3 separate regions of the Homo sapiens genome follow, and all the other regions are linked to region 1. Evidence: fine-mapped expression QTL. A gene starts in region 1. Each other region holds a variant in brackets. All regions are shown on one strand. Distances are between the middles of the regions.

What was found. PIP is the estimated chance that this variant, and not a neighbour inherited with it, causes the effect. A credible set is the group of variants that fine-mapping cannot tell apart.
Region 2: its variant is the best candidate, but not a certain one, in a credible set for the expression of ZNF260 in whole blood (INTERVAL, PIP 0.57).
Region 3: its variant is the best candidate, but not a certain one, in a credible set for the expression of ZNF260 in lung (TOPMed, PIP 0.85).

What each region holds. Positions count from the first base shown.
Region 1 is chr19:36,525,693-36,529,938 of GRCh38, reverse strand. ZNF260 (zinc finger protein 260) reads left to right here and starts at 1,668. Exons shown (of 3, transcript NM_001166037.2): 1 at 1,668-1,720. RefSeq lists enhancers at 941-1,140, 952-1,660, 1,291-1,920, 1,661-2,371.
Region 2 is chr19:36,579,111-36,583,356 of GRCh38, reverse strand. All of the region lies in intron 3 of ZNF529-AS1 (ZNF529 antisense RNA 1), which reads right to left. It also overlaps a transcript of ZNF529 not described here. Among named protein-coding and RNA genes, the nearest start is that of ZNF529-AS1, 7.9 kb to the right of the region's middle. The variant A/TA (reference allele first, on the strand shown) is at 2,537.
Region 3 is chr19:36,504,491-36,508,736 of GRCh38, reverse strand. No RefSeq gene overlaps it. Among named protein-coding and RNA genes, the nearest start is that of ZNF566-AS1, 17 kb to the right of the region's middle. The variant G/A (reference allele first, on the strand shown) is at 2,492.

The sequences.
Region 1 (4,246 bases):
AAAATCAGCCGGGCGCAGTGGCTCATGCCTGTAATCCCAGCACTTTGGGAGGCCGAGGTGGACGGTTCACAAGGTTAGGAGTTCAAGACAAGCCAGGCCAACATAGTGAAGCCCCGTCTCTACTAAAAATACAACAACAAAAAAATTACCCGGGCGTGGTGGCCGGCACCTGTAATCCTAGCTACTCGGTAGGCTGAGGAAGGAGAATCGCTTGAACCTGGGAGGCGGAGGTTGCAGTGAGCCGAGATCGCGCCACTGCACACCAGCCCGGGCGACAGTGCGAGACTCCATCTCAAAAAAAAAAAAAATCAGGTCCTGGAAAAATAAAGCATTTCAGGAACAAAGAGAAAACTTCAAGGCACCTTAAACATGGCTTTTAGATATCACAACCGTTATTTCCTCTCCTCTGGGGAACCTCTCTTGGAGGACAGAAATGAGAAGGGAGACAATACACCTCCCCTAGGGCCCAAATGACAAGGCCAGAGCTTACTCTGCGTTCCCCTCCCCCGCCATGGGAGGGCTATCAGAGGAAACTGGGGCTTCCAACTCAAAACTCAGTGTCATAGAAAAATCCCCTTTACTATCACGGGGCCGAGCTGTCTTCTGCTCTCACATATGACTATGTGTGACATTTGGTCAAAGACACACAAACACAGTCTCAACTCCACGCACACCCAATGCTTCACAGTCACACACCCACCACTGTACACAAAGTCACAAGCACCCACCCTCCATACTCCCACACAAGGACACAGAGTCACAACTACATAAGTACAAAGCTCCCTATATCTGCACACAAACGAACATATGGTCACAGAGTTACAATCACACACCCACCGCGGGCACACAGTCACAGCTAACCCACACCCTCACACAGCGTTACACAGTCACACAATAACAGTCCTAACACAGGGACTCACGGGACACCCGCAGAGTCCTCCCCACATCCGTACACAAGGTGTCACACACAATCACAATCACACACACACTGTGCTAGGACATACATTCACAAAAACACAATTTCACAACCGCCCTTCTCGGCGCGTTCCGCCTGAACAGACTTAATACTCAGTCTCAACCTCCGCACCGGATTCCAGACGCTTCACCTCCAACCTCCTCCTGATCCTGTAGTCTCCGAGCCGACCCGCTCAGAGGCCAGCACCTGGGTCGCGTGCAGCTCTCCCCCGAGCCGCGGGAGTCGCGAGGGGAGGGGCCGAGGGCGCGGCGCCTTCTGGGAAATGTAGTTCAGCGCCACGCCCGCGATGAGCAAGATGGCGCCCGGCTTGAGCCCAGCCAAAGGGATTACCCTCATTCCCGAACCGTGTCTGAGAGTCTCCTGGGGTTCCTGGCTTAGTATCGCACCGTGGCTGTTACATAAAGTCAGCACAGCGTGTTTAAGCTGATGTTACACCACTACCCAATCCCAGGGATAGAGTAAACTAAGACTAAGGCCTTACACCCCTGCCCCGGCCAGGGAGACAGTCCCACAAGCTCTGGCGGAGGAAAAGTTCGCGCGAAAAGCTGACTCAAACCGCTGAACCTTCTGGGAAATGTAGTCTACCCTCAAAAGAGTGGCACGGAGGACGGGCCAAGATCTCTCGATTCCGTCCGGTTCTGAGTCGGGGCCTGGCCCAGCCCAGGAGACCTCTGGGAGCGCTGCCCGCGGAAGGAGTGCGCAGGCGCGGAATCTCCGACTTGCCATGGTCGTCTTTGTCTGCCGGTGAGTTGGGTTTCGGCCCTGTGGGACTTGGGTTTCTGGACACTGAAACGGGCCAGGGACGCTGGAGGGGAGGATTTGCAGTGCCTGCGACGGGGCTGGGAGTATGGAGGGGAGGAATCGCCTTCTATGATGTGCGGTGATCCGAGCTTGTGTGGCTGGGGGCAGGGGTACAGTTCGGGTGGGTTCGCGGGTGGGTGACCGAGAGTGTGAGGGGGTGTTGAGGGTGCAGAGTTAGTGAGAAACTGGTTCCAAGTTTGTGAGGATGGACGGATGGCTTTGTGAGGTAGTAACCTCTAAGCCTCACTTTTCTCATTTCTAAAATAATAAAGATGCGTTTTCTGGAAAATAGGAAACGGAAAAGGCTAAGGAATTGAGCGGATAAGTAATTTTAAAGGTGATTTTTTATATAAAAGCAGACCTATTGTGGAGTAGAAAACAAAATCAGCATTACCTTTCCATTATTTTTTTAAAGAGGCAAGATTTCGGAAAAACTTGTTACTGGGTGCCTGTACACCCAGTAGGCATTGACTTTTCTTAATACTTTGGAGAAACTTTGGTGCAGTTGCTTGGAGAAACCCTGAACTAAGGAATATCTTTAAGAGGTAGTTTCCAATAGCGCAGACGGCACAGAATTTGGAAGCTACTTGTCCTGCCTTTAGCGCAGAGGTCAAGAAACTCCCTAGTTCGTCAGTGAGGGCAGCAATCTCACTCCTAATTTAATCAGGGTTTCCCCAGCCTTTTGTAAATATAGGGGAAATTCTTTTCTTGTGTATACAAAGATAGAAGTATCCTATCTTCAAGTATCTTGTCACACTTATTCTTAACATATCAACATATTCAAGTATCTTGTCACACTTATTCTTAACATATTTTTCAATAAAATAAAAAAGTAACAGGGTTAATAGTTTTGAAATATACAGAAAAAGTAAAAGATACAAAGAAGACAGGACTTAGTTTCTGCTTTTCCCCTAACTATTGGTGTTTCTAAGTTTCTGGCCTTGATCATCTAAGTACTCCTATCAGCAACAACATTACACTGCCATCCATGGCTTCATCTAATACAGATGACTAATAAATGTCTGTTTCTGCTGGAGGCTTGTCCTGAGCTCCTAATCCATATTATCTAATTGCCCAATGTGCAGTCCACCTGGAAGTTACAGGGAACTTCAAGCTCTTTATGTCTAAAGGGCTCCTTCTTCCTGCAGTCTGCCTCCATCTATTTCCCCTCTGTACCTGTTTCAGCAATTTATAGCACTGTCTAGCCAGGTTCTAAGGCACTTACATCTTAGAGAAGGCTTCTAAGTAAGTTTGATCCTTTGATTTGTTATATCCCATTACAAATTGTAAACCAAGGTTTCTCAGCACACATAATCATAAATGTATATGTTTGCTGAATCAGTGAATGAACAGTCAGCCCTCTGTGTCTGTAGGCTCTGCTTCCACGGATTCAACAAACATGAATCATAACTGTTGTTAAGCTTGCGATGGTTGTATCTGTACGTGTACAGATTTTTTTTTCTTGTCATGATTCCCTAAACAATACAGTATAACAACTATTTACCAGACATTTACGTTGTATTACGTATGATAAGTAATCTGGAGATAATTTTAAAGTATATGGGAGGATGTGCATAGGTTATATGTAAATATACTTCCATTCACTTTATTTTTATTTTTTTGAGATGGAGTCTCACTCTGTCACCCAGACTGGAGTGCAGTGGTGCAATCTCGGCTCACTGCCACCTCTGCCTCCTGGGTTCAAGCGATTCTCCTGCCTCAGCCTCCCAAGTAGCTGAGGTACAGGTGTGTGCCACCATGCCCAGCTAATTTTTTTATTTTTAGTAGAGACAGGGTTTCACCATCTTGGCCAGCCTGGTCTCGAACTCCTGACCTCAGGTGGTCAGCCTGCCTCAGCCTCCCAAAGTGCTGGGATTACAGGCGTGAGCCACCATGCCTGGCTTTATATTTGAAGTATAAGGGACTTGAGCATCTGCAGATTTTGGTATCCACAGTGATCCTGGAACCAATCTCCTGTGATATCAAGGGAAGATTATTATTATAGGACACTTACTATATTTAACTTCTCCTAGTTAATCTAAGTAAAATATTAGTCCTCTAAATTTTTTAGAGCTCTGACCTATAAATACCATCAGAATAATTTCCTGTATTTTTTTCCATATCACTCAAGGTTGGTTACTTCAGACTTATGAGAAAAGTGTTATGGGGAAAAATTATATGCAAAGATGTGACTTCACTCAGGAGCAAGGTCACAAGTGACACCTGCTCGAAGGAACCTATACAGGTTGTGATTGTGGATAACTCTGGCATCTTAGTCTCTCATAGTTTCTCTGTGTAACCTAAATTCTGAAAATAAGGTCCCTTCTGTTTCTCATTTTTGAAATGTTTAGAGCTTTTTTTTTTTTTTCCTTCCTTGAGATGGAGTCTCCACTGTCGCTTAGGCTGGTGTATAGTGGCGTGACCTTGGTTCAGTGCAACCTCTGCCTCCTGGCTTCAAGTGATTCTCTT
Region 2 (4,246 bases), 53 kb before region 1:
GGCCAGGTGTCATGGCACATGCCTGAAATCTCAGCACTTTGGGAGGCCAAGGTGGGAGGATTTCTTGAGCCCAGGAGTTCAAGACCAGCCTGCACAACAAAGTGAGACCCTGTCTCTAAATTTTTTTTTTAATTAGCTGGCCATAGTGGTGCCCACCTGTACTCCCAGCTACTTGGGAGGCTGAGACAGAAGAATCACTTGATACTGGTAGGTTGAGGCTGTAGTGAGTCATGATCATGCCACTAGCCTCCAGTCTGACAAAGCAAGACCCTGTCTCCAAACAAACAAACAAACAAACAATTAGATACAGACTTTCTGTTTTTCTATTTCATTTTGAGTCAAGAGTTTTGAGAAGCTGTGCTTTTAAAGGAATGGATGAATTTCATCTAAAATGTCAAATTTATTGGCATAAAATTGTTCATAATATTGCCTTATCATTTTACTGTCTATAGGATCCGTAGTGGCATCTTCATTTTTATTCCTGACATGGGCAATTTGTGTTTTCTATTTTATTAATTATGCTTACTAGGGATTTATCCATTTTTAAAATACCTTCACATAAACTTGTTGTTTTGTTCATTTTCTTAATGGTCTGCTTTCTATTTCTACTTAATTGATTTATGCTCATCTTTTTTTTTTTTTTTTTTTTAAGATGGAGTCTCGCTCTGTCACCCAGCCTGGAGTGCAGTGGCGCGATCTCGGCTCACTGCAAGCTCCTCCTCCCGGATTTAGGCCATTCTCCTGCCTCAGCCTCCCGAGTAGCTGGGACTACAGGCGGCGCCTGCCACAACTCCTGGCTAATTTTTTGCATTTTTAGTAGAGATGGGGTTTCACCATGTTAGTCAGGATGGTCTCGATCTCCTGACCTCGTGATCTGCCCGTCTCAGCCTCCCACAGTGCTGGGATTACAGGCGTGAGCCACCGCGCCCAGCCGATTTATGCCCATCTTTACTTCTTTTTTTTGACTTTTGGTTTAGCATATAGCATGTTTATTATTCTTGTTTAAGCCTTTCCTCATTTTTAAAAATGGTGGCAAAGTATACATGTAACATAAAATTTACCATCTTAACTATTTGAGTATACAGCTCAGCAGCATTAAGTATATTCCCATTTTTGTACAACCAACATCCACAACTTTTTCATCCTGTAAATGTGAAACTATATCCATGAAATAATAACTACCCTTTTCCCCCTGCCCCCAGCCCCTGGCAACCACGACAAGAAACCTACAAACTCTCACTACAAGCGTTAATAGCCTAAAAGTGGGAGACCAGTAATACTTTCTGATTTTATGAGGTGGACTACTCTAGATACTTCATATGAGTGGAATCATAAGTAGTTATCTTTTTGTGATTGGCTTATTAGAATATCCTCAAGGTTCAGCCACATTGTAGCATATGTCAAAATTTCCTTCCAAGGCTGAATAATATTACATTGTATGTATATGCCACATGTATTAGTCTGTTTTGTGTTGCTATAAAGGAATACCTGAGGCTGGGTAATTTATAAAGAAAAATGGTTTATTTAGCTTATGGTTCTATAGGCTGTACAAGAAGCATAGTGCCAGCATCTGCTTCTGGTGAGGCCTCAGGAAGCTTACAATTATGGCAGAAGGCAAAGGGAGAGCTAGCATATCACATGGCAAGAGGGAACAAAAGGGAGAGGGAGGAGGTGCCAGGCTCTTTTAAACAACTAGCTATAGGATGAACTCATATCCATGTGGAGGACACCAAGCCATTCATGAGATCCACCCCATAATCCAACACCTCCCACTAGGCGCCACCTCCAACACTGGGGGTCACATGTCCGTGTGAGATTTTGAGGGAACAAATATCCAAATCATATTACCACATTTTGTTTATCCATTCATCCACTGATGAACATCTGGGTTGTACGTATTTCTTGGTTATTGTGAATAATGCTGCTATGAATTTCTCCTTTTTTTATTTAAGTACTTAACATTCCTCTCAACTCTGCTTTAGCTGTATCCTTCCAATTTTGATATGCTGTTGTCACTTTTTCATATTTCAAAACATTTTCCCCTTATTTATTCAATGATCTGTAGATCTAGAAGTGTGTTATTTAATTTCCATGTATTGAAGGACTGTATAGGTTTCTTATTATTGGTTTCTAATGCACATTCCCTGTAATGTGGCAATCTTTTGAAGTTTATTGTGACTTATGGTCCAGCCAATAGTCTATCATGGGGACTGTTCAGGTACATGAAAAGAATGTAATTTTTCAATTGTGGGTATGGTGTTCTGTAAACAACAATTAGGTCATGTTGACTGGTGTGGTTCATATCTTCTATACAGTTGTCCCTTGCTATCCACAGGGGACTGGTTCCAGGACACCTTGTGGATACCAAAACCTACAGATGCCCAAGTTTGTTATATAAAATGGTGTAGTAGTTGCATATAACCTATGCACAACCTTCTGTATATTTTAAACCATCTCTAGATTTTTTATAATACTTAATACAATGTAAATGCTATGTAAATAATTTTATACTGTATTTTAAAATTTGTATTTTTTT[A/TA]CTGTCATTGTGTTTTTTCTGAATATTTGTGCATTGCTATTGGTTGAATCTGCATATATGAAGAGCTGATTACATATACTACTGAATTTCTTGCCTACAAGTGCTATCAATTACTGAGATATAATTGTGGATTTCCAATTATGCTTGTGGATCTATTTCTTTTGTTCTGTTAGTTTTTGCTTCATAAAATTTAACACTCTCATTATAGGTTCATACTAGCATACATATTCCTGATGAACACAGTCATGTGTCATGTAATAACATTTTACTCAATGATGGACACATATACAATGGTGGTCCCATAAGATTACAATGGAGCTGAAAAATTCCTATCACTTGTGGACGTTGTCATGCAACATATCACTCAGGTGTTTGTGGTGACGCTGCTGTAAATAAACCTACTGTGCTTCCAGTTGTATAAAAGTATAGCACATGCAATTATGTATAGTACGTAATAGGTGATAATAATAAGTGATTACATTACTAGTTTATGTAATTTATTGTACTATTTGTATTATTATTTTAGACTGTACTCCTTCTACTTATTAAAAAAAAAAAGTAACTGTAAAACAGCCTCAGGCAAGTCCTTCAGGAGGTATCCAGAAGAAGGCATTGTTTTCATAGGCGATGACAGCTCCATGCATATTTTTAATCCTGAAGACGACATTCCAGTTGGACAAGATATGGCGGTAAAAGACAGACATATTGATACTCTAGACCCTGTGTAGGCCCAGGCTAAAGTGTGTTTGTTTTTAACAAGAAAGTTTAAAAAGTAACAAACATTTTTAAAACAAAAAAATTTTTAAATAGAAAAAAGCCTATAGAATAAGGACAGAAATATTTTTGTGTTGCTATATAATGTGTTTGCGTTTTAAGTGAAGAGTCACTACAATTCAGAAAGATAAAAAATAGTAAGTTTATAATGTAAAAATATTACAGGAAGCTAAGGTTAATTTATTATTGAAGAAAACTTAAAAAAATAAATTTAGTGAAGCCTAAGTGTACTGCTTGTAAAGTCTACAGCAGTATACAGTAATGTCCTAGTCCTTAGCATTCTCTCACAACTCACTCACTGATGCACCCAGAAATTCAGTCCCACAAGCTCCATTCATGGCAAGTATCTTATACCGGTGTGCCATTTTTTAATATTTTATACAGTATTTTTACTGTACCTTTGCTATGTTTAGATACACAAACACCACTGTGTTATAAATGCCTACAGCATTCAATACAGGTATGCTATATGCTATATAATATGCTATACAGGTTTGTAGCCTAGGAGCAATAGGCTATACCATATAACTTAGGTATGTAGTAGGCTACCCCATTGCTGTTTGTGTTAGTGTGCTCTATGATGCTTGCATGATGCAATCACCTAATAACACATTTCTCAGAATGTATCCCTGTAGTGACAAATGTATATGCAAATTCCTAATGACCTGCTCTTTTATGACTGTTACCTATCTCCTGCCATATACACTGTTTTGAGGCCTATTATCTGATACTACTATAGCCATGCCAACTTTCTTATACTTAATGTGTATCTTTTTCTTGACCAATTTTAAGTAGCTTTCTCAGCTTAGAATTTCTAATTCACACGTGTAGTATTTTTTTTTTTTTTAGACGGAGTCTCACTCTGTCTCCCAGGCTGGAGTGCAACGGCGCAATCTTGGCTCACTACAACCTCCACCTACCGGGTTCAAGCAATTC
Region 3 (4,246 bases), 21 kb after region 1:
CCTTCAGGCATCTGCTTGGCTCTCTAACAAGTGAATTTTCCTTTCTTTACTGTTCTAAAGCTTTTTAAAATAAACTTCCACTCGTGCTCTGAAACTTGCCTTGGTCTCTTTTTCTGCTTCCCCTCAGTTGAATTCTTTCTTCTGAGAAGGCACAGGCTGAAGTTGCTGTGGTCTTGTATGAATACACCACTGTTAACGGGGTAATTCAGATCTCTGTCACCACTAACTTTATCACAACTTATTCAGACCTTTGACAACATACTTTGACTTTCCGCTTTGTCCTATGCTTTCTTTTAAAAAAAAAAATCACTTTAGGACCAATATTTATCACATAAAATTCTTTCTCATACAAAGTTATTCTCTTTTGCTTTTAACTTGCCTTACCAAAAATGTATCTTCATATTAATAACTTTGTTTACATCTCTCTGTCCTATTGGTTCTTTTCCTTTTTTTTTTTTTTTTTTTTTGAGACAGAGTCTCACTCTGTCCTGTCCACCAGGCTGGAATGCAGTGGCGCCATCTCAGCTCACTTCAACCTCCACCTCCCAGGTTCAAGCAATTCTCTGCCTCAGCCTCCCGAGTAGCTGGGATTACAGGTGCCCGCCACCACACCCAGCTAATTTTTGTATTTTTAGTAGAGACAGGGTTTCACCATGTTAGCAAGGCTGGTCTTGAACTCCTGACCTCGTGATCCACCCACCTTGGCCTCCCAAAGTGCTGGGATTACAAGCGTGAGCCACCACACCTGGCCTATTTAGAGTTTTTATAAGATTTAAAATGCCAAGAACAAACATTTGTGTTCAACAATTCATATTTTGGTTTTTTAATCTTATTTGGTACCAACCAAGACATTTAGTAAGTATCCAGTAATTAAGTAACACAATGGTACGATGTCAAATGACATGAAAAGTCTTTTTATGTCTATCCCATTTACATTTACCTAATTGATTTTTTTTTTTTTTTTGAGACGGAGTCTCGCTCTGTTGCCCAGGCTGGAGTACAGTGGCGCAATCTTGGCTCACTGCAAGTTCTGCCTCCCGGGTTCATGCCATTCTCCTGCCTCAGCCTCCCGAGTAGCTGGGACTACAGGTGCCCGCCACCATGCCCGGCTAACTTTTTTGTATTTTTAGTGGAGACGGGGTTTCACCGTGTTAGCCAGGATGGTCTCAATCTCCTGACCTCGTGATCCGCCCACCTCGGCCTCCCAAAGTGCTGGGATTACAGGCGTGAGCCACGACGCCTGGCCCTAATTGATTTATTTTTAACAATTATACTGAAATTCTGAAAACTGAGATATTAGACAAAGTCACTATTTGAAGTTATTCATGTATCTGATGTGTGATCAATATCCAGAATATATAGAAAATTCCTAATACTCAAAATGAAAGCAAACAACCAGATCAAAAGGGTAAATGACTTAAATAGCCATTTATCCGAAGAAGTTTTTTGTTTGTTTGTTTTTTGTTTTGAGACACAGTCTGGCTCTGTCGCCCAGGTTGGAGTGCAGCAGCACAATCTAGGCTCACTGCAACCTCCGCTTCCCGGGTTCAAGCAGTTCTCTGCCTCAGCCTCCCGAGTAGCTGGGATTACAGGTGCACACCATCGTGCCCGGCTAATTTTTGTATTTTTAGTAGAGATGAGGATTCCCCATGTTGGCCAGGCCAGTCTTGAACTCCTGACCTCAGGTGATCCGCCTGCCTCGGCCTCCCAAAGTGTTGGGATTACAGGCGTGAGCCACTGCACCCGGCCCAAGATTTTTTCATGCGCCAGTGCTTTGCAAATCAAAACTAAAATGTGATTACCAACTCACCCATTAGGATAGCTATTAAACAAAATACACAAAATAACAAGTGTTTACAAGGATCAAAAGAAATGGGAACCTGGCCTGGCGCCGTGGCTCATGCCTGTAATCCTAACACTTTGGAAGGCCAAGACAGGCAGACTGCCTGAGCTCAGGAGTTCGAGACCTGCCTGGACAACATGGTCTCTACAAAATACAAAAAAATTAGCCACTGCAGTCCAGTCTGGATGACAGAGCAAGACTCCACCTCCAAAAAAAAAAAAAAAAAAAAAAAAAGAAATGGGAACTCTTATGCCCTGTTGATGAGGGTGTAAAATGGTGCAGCCACTGTGGAAAAAAATAGAGTAGTTCCTCCAAAAATTAAACATATAGCACTTTGGGACGCTGAGAGGAGGGGATCTCTTTTTTATTTTATTTTTTTGAGATGGAGTCTTACTGTGTTGCCCAGGCTGGAGGGCAGTGGCGCGATCTCGGCTCACTGCAAGCTCCGCCTCCCGGGTTCACGCCATTCTCCTGCCTCAGCCTCCTGAGTAGCTGGGACTACAGGCGCCCGCCACCACGCCCAGCTAATTTTTTTGTATTTTTAGTGGAGACAGGGTTTCACCGTGTTAGCCAGGATGGTCTCAATCTCCTGACCTCGTGATCTGCCCACCTCGGCCTCCCAAAGTGCTGGGATTACAGGCGAGAGCC[G/A]CCGCGCCCAGCCACTTACAAGGGGATCTCTTGAGCCCAGGAGTTCCAGACCAGCCTGGGCAACCTCTACAAAAAATATAAAAATTCGCTGGCTGTGGTGGTGTGCACCTGTACTTTATGCCCCTAAGTCAAACTTTTTTTTTTTTTGAGACAGAGTTTTGCTCTTGTTGCCCAGGCTGGAGTGCAGTGGCATGATTCTACTGCCTCATCCTCCCGAGTAGCTGGGATTACAGGCATACACCACCACACTCGGATAGTTTTGTATTTTTAGTAGAGACAGTGCTTCTCCATGTTGGTCAGGCTGGTCTCGAACTCTCAACTTCAGGTGATCCACCTGCCTCGGCCTCCCAAAGTACTGGGATTACAGGCATGAGGCACCGCGCCTGGCCAGACTTTTTGAGTCTTGCACTGTTGCCCAGGCTAGAGTGCAGTGGTGAGATCTCAGCTCACTGCAACCTCCACCTCCCGGGTTCAAGTGATTCTCCTGCCTCAGCCTCCTAAGTAGCTGGGATTACAGGCACCTGCCACCACACCCAGCTAATTTTTGTATTTTTGGTAGAGACAGGGTTTCACCATGTTGGCCAGGCTGGTCTTGAACTCCTGACCTCAAGTGATCCACCCGCCTCAGCCTTCCAAAGTGCTGGGATTACAGGCGTCAGCCACCGCTCCCTGAATTCTTGATAATGTCATGATAATGTTAGCAGTGGCACAGATCCAAGTTATCCCAAGTTTCCAGCAGTGTATTCACATCAGTCCACAGCAACTTCAGCCCTTGCCACCTCAGAAGGCTGCTCAGGAGGTTGAGGTGGGAGGATTGCTTGAACCCTAGAGATTGAGGCTGCAGTGAGCTGTGGTCTCACCACTGCACTCCTGTCTGGGCAACAGAGAGAGACTCTGTCTCCAAAAGAAAAGAGAAAAACATTAAACCTACAACTACCATATGATTAAACAATTCCATTTCTGAGTATATACTTAAAAGAATTGAAAGAAAGTACTCAAACACTCATGTTTATAGCAGCGTTATTCATAATACCGAAAACATGGAGGCAACCCCAGTGCCTATAGATAGATGAATGGGTAAGCAAAATGTGGTATATACATACAGTGGAATAGTATTAGGCCTCGAAAATGAAGGACATTCTGTAATAGGCTACAATGTGGATGAACTTTGAGCACATAATGCTAAGTGAAATATTCCAGTCACAAAAAGACCATACTATATGATTCCACTTATCCAAGGTACTTAAAGTAGTCAAAATCATAGGGACAGTAGAATTATGGTTTTTAGCAGAGAAGAAGAATGGGGAGTTAATTGTTTAATGGGTATAGATTTTCATTATGACAGGATGAAAAGAATTATAAAGATGGGTGGTGGTGATGGTTGCACAACATTATGAATGTATTTAATACCACTGAACAGTACACTTTAAAATGTCTAAGATGGGGGCCGGGTGCGGTGGCTCACGCCTGTATTCCCAACAGTTTGGGAGGCTGAGGTGAGCTGATCACGAGGTCAGGAGTGCGAGACCAGCCTGGCCAACATATTGAAACCCTGTCTCTACTACAAATACAAAAAAAAAAAAAAAATTAGCCGGGTGCATTGGTGGGCACCTGTAATCCCAGCTACTTGGGAGGCTGAGGCAGAAGAATCGCTTGAACCCAGGAGTCGGAGGTTGCAATGAGCCAAAATTGCACCACTGCACTCCAGCCTGGGCGACAGTGGGAGACTCCGTCTCAAAAAAGAAAAAAAGGGCC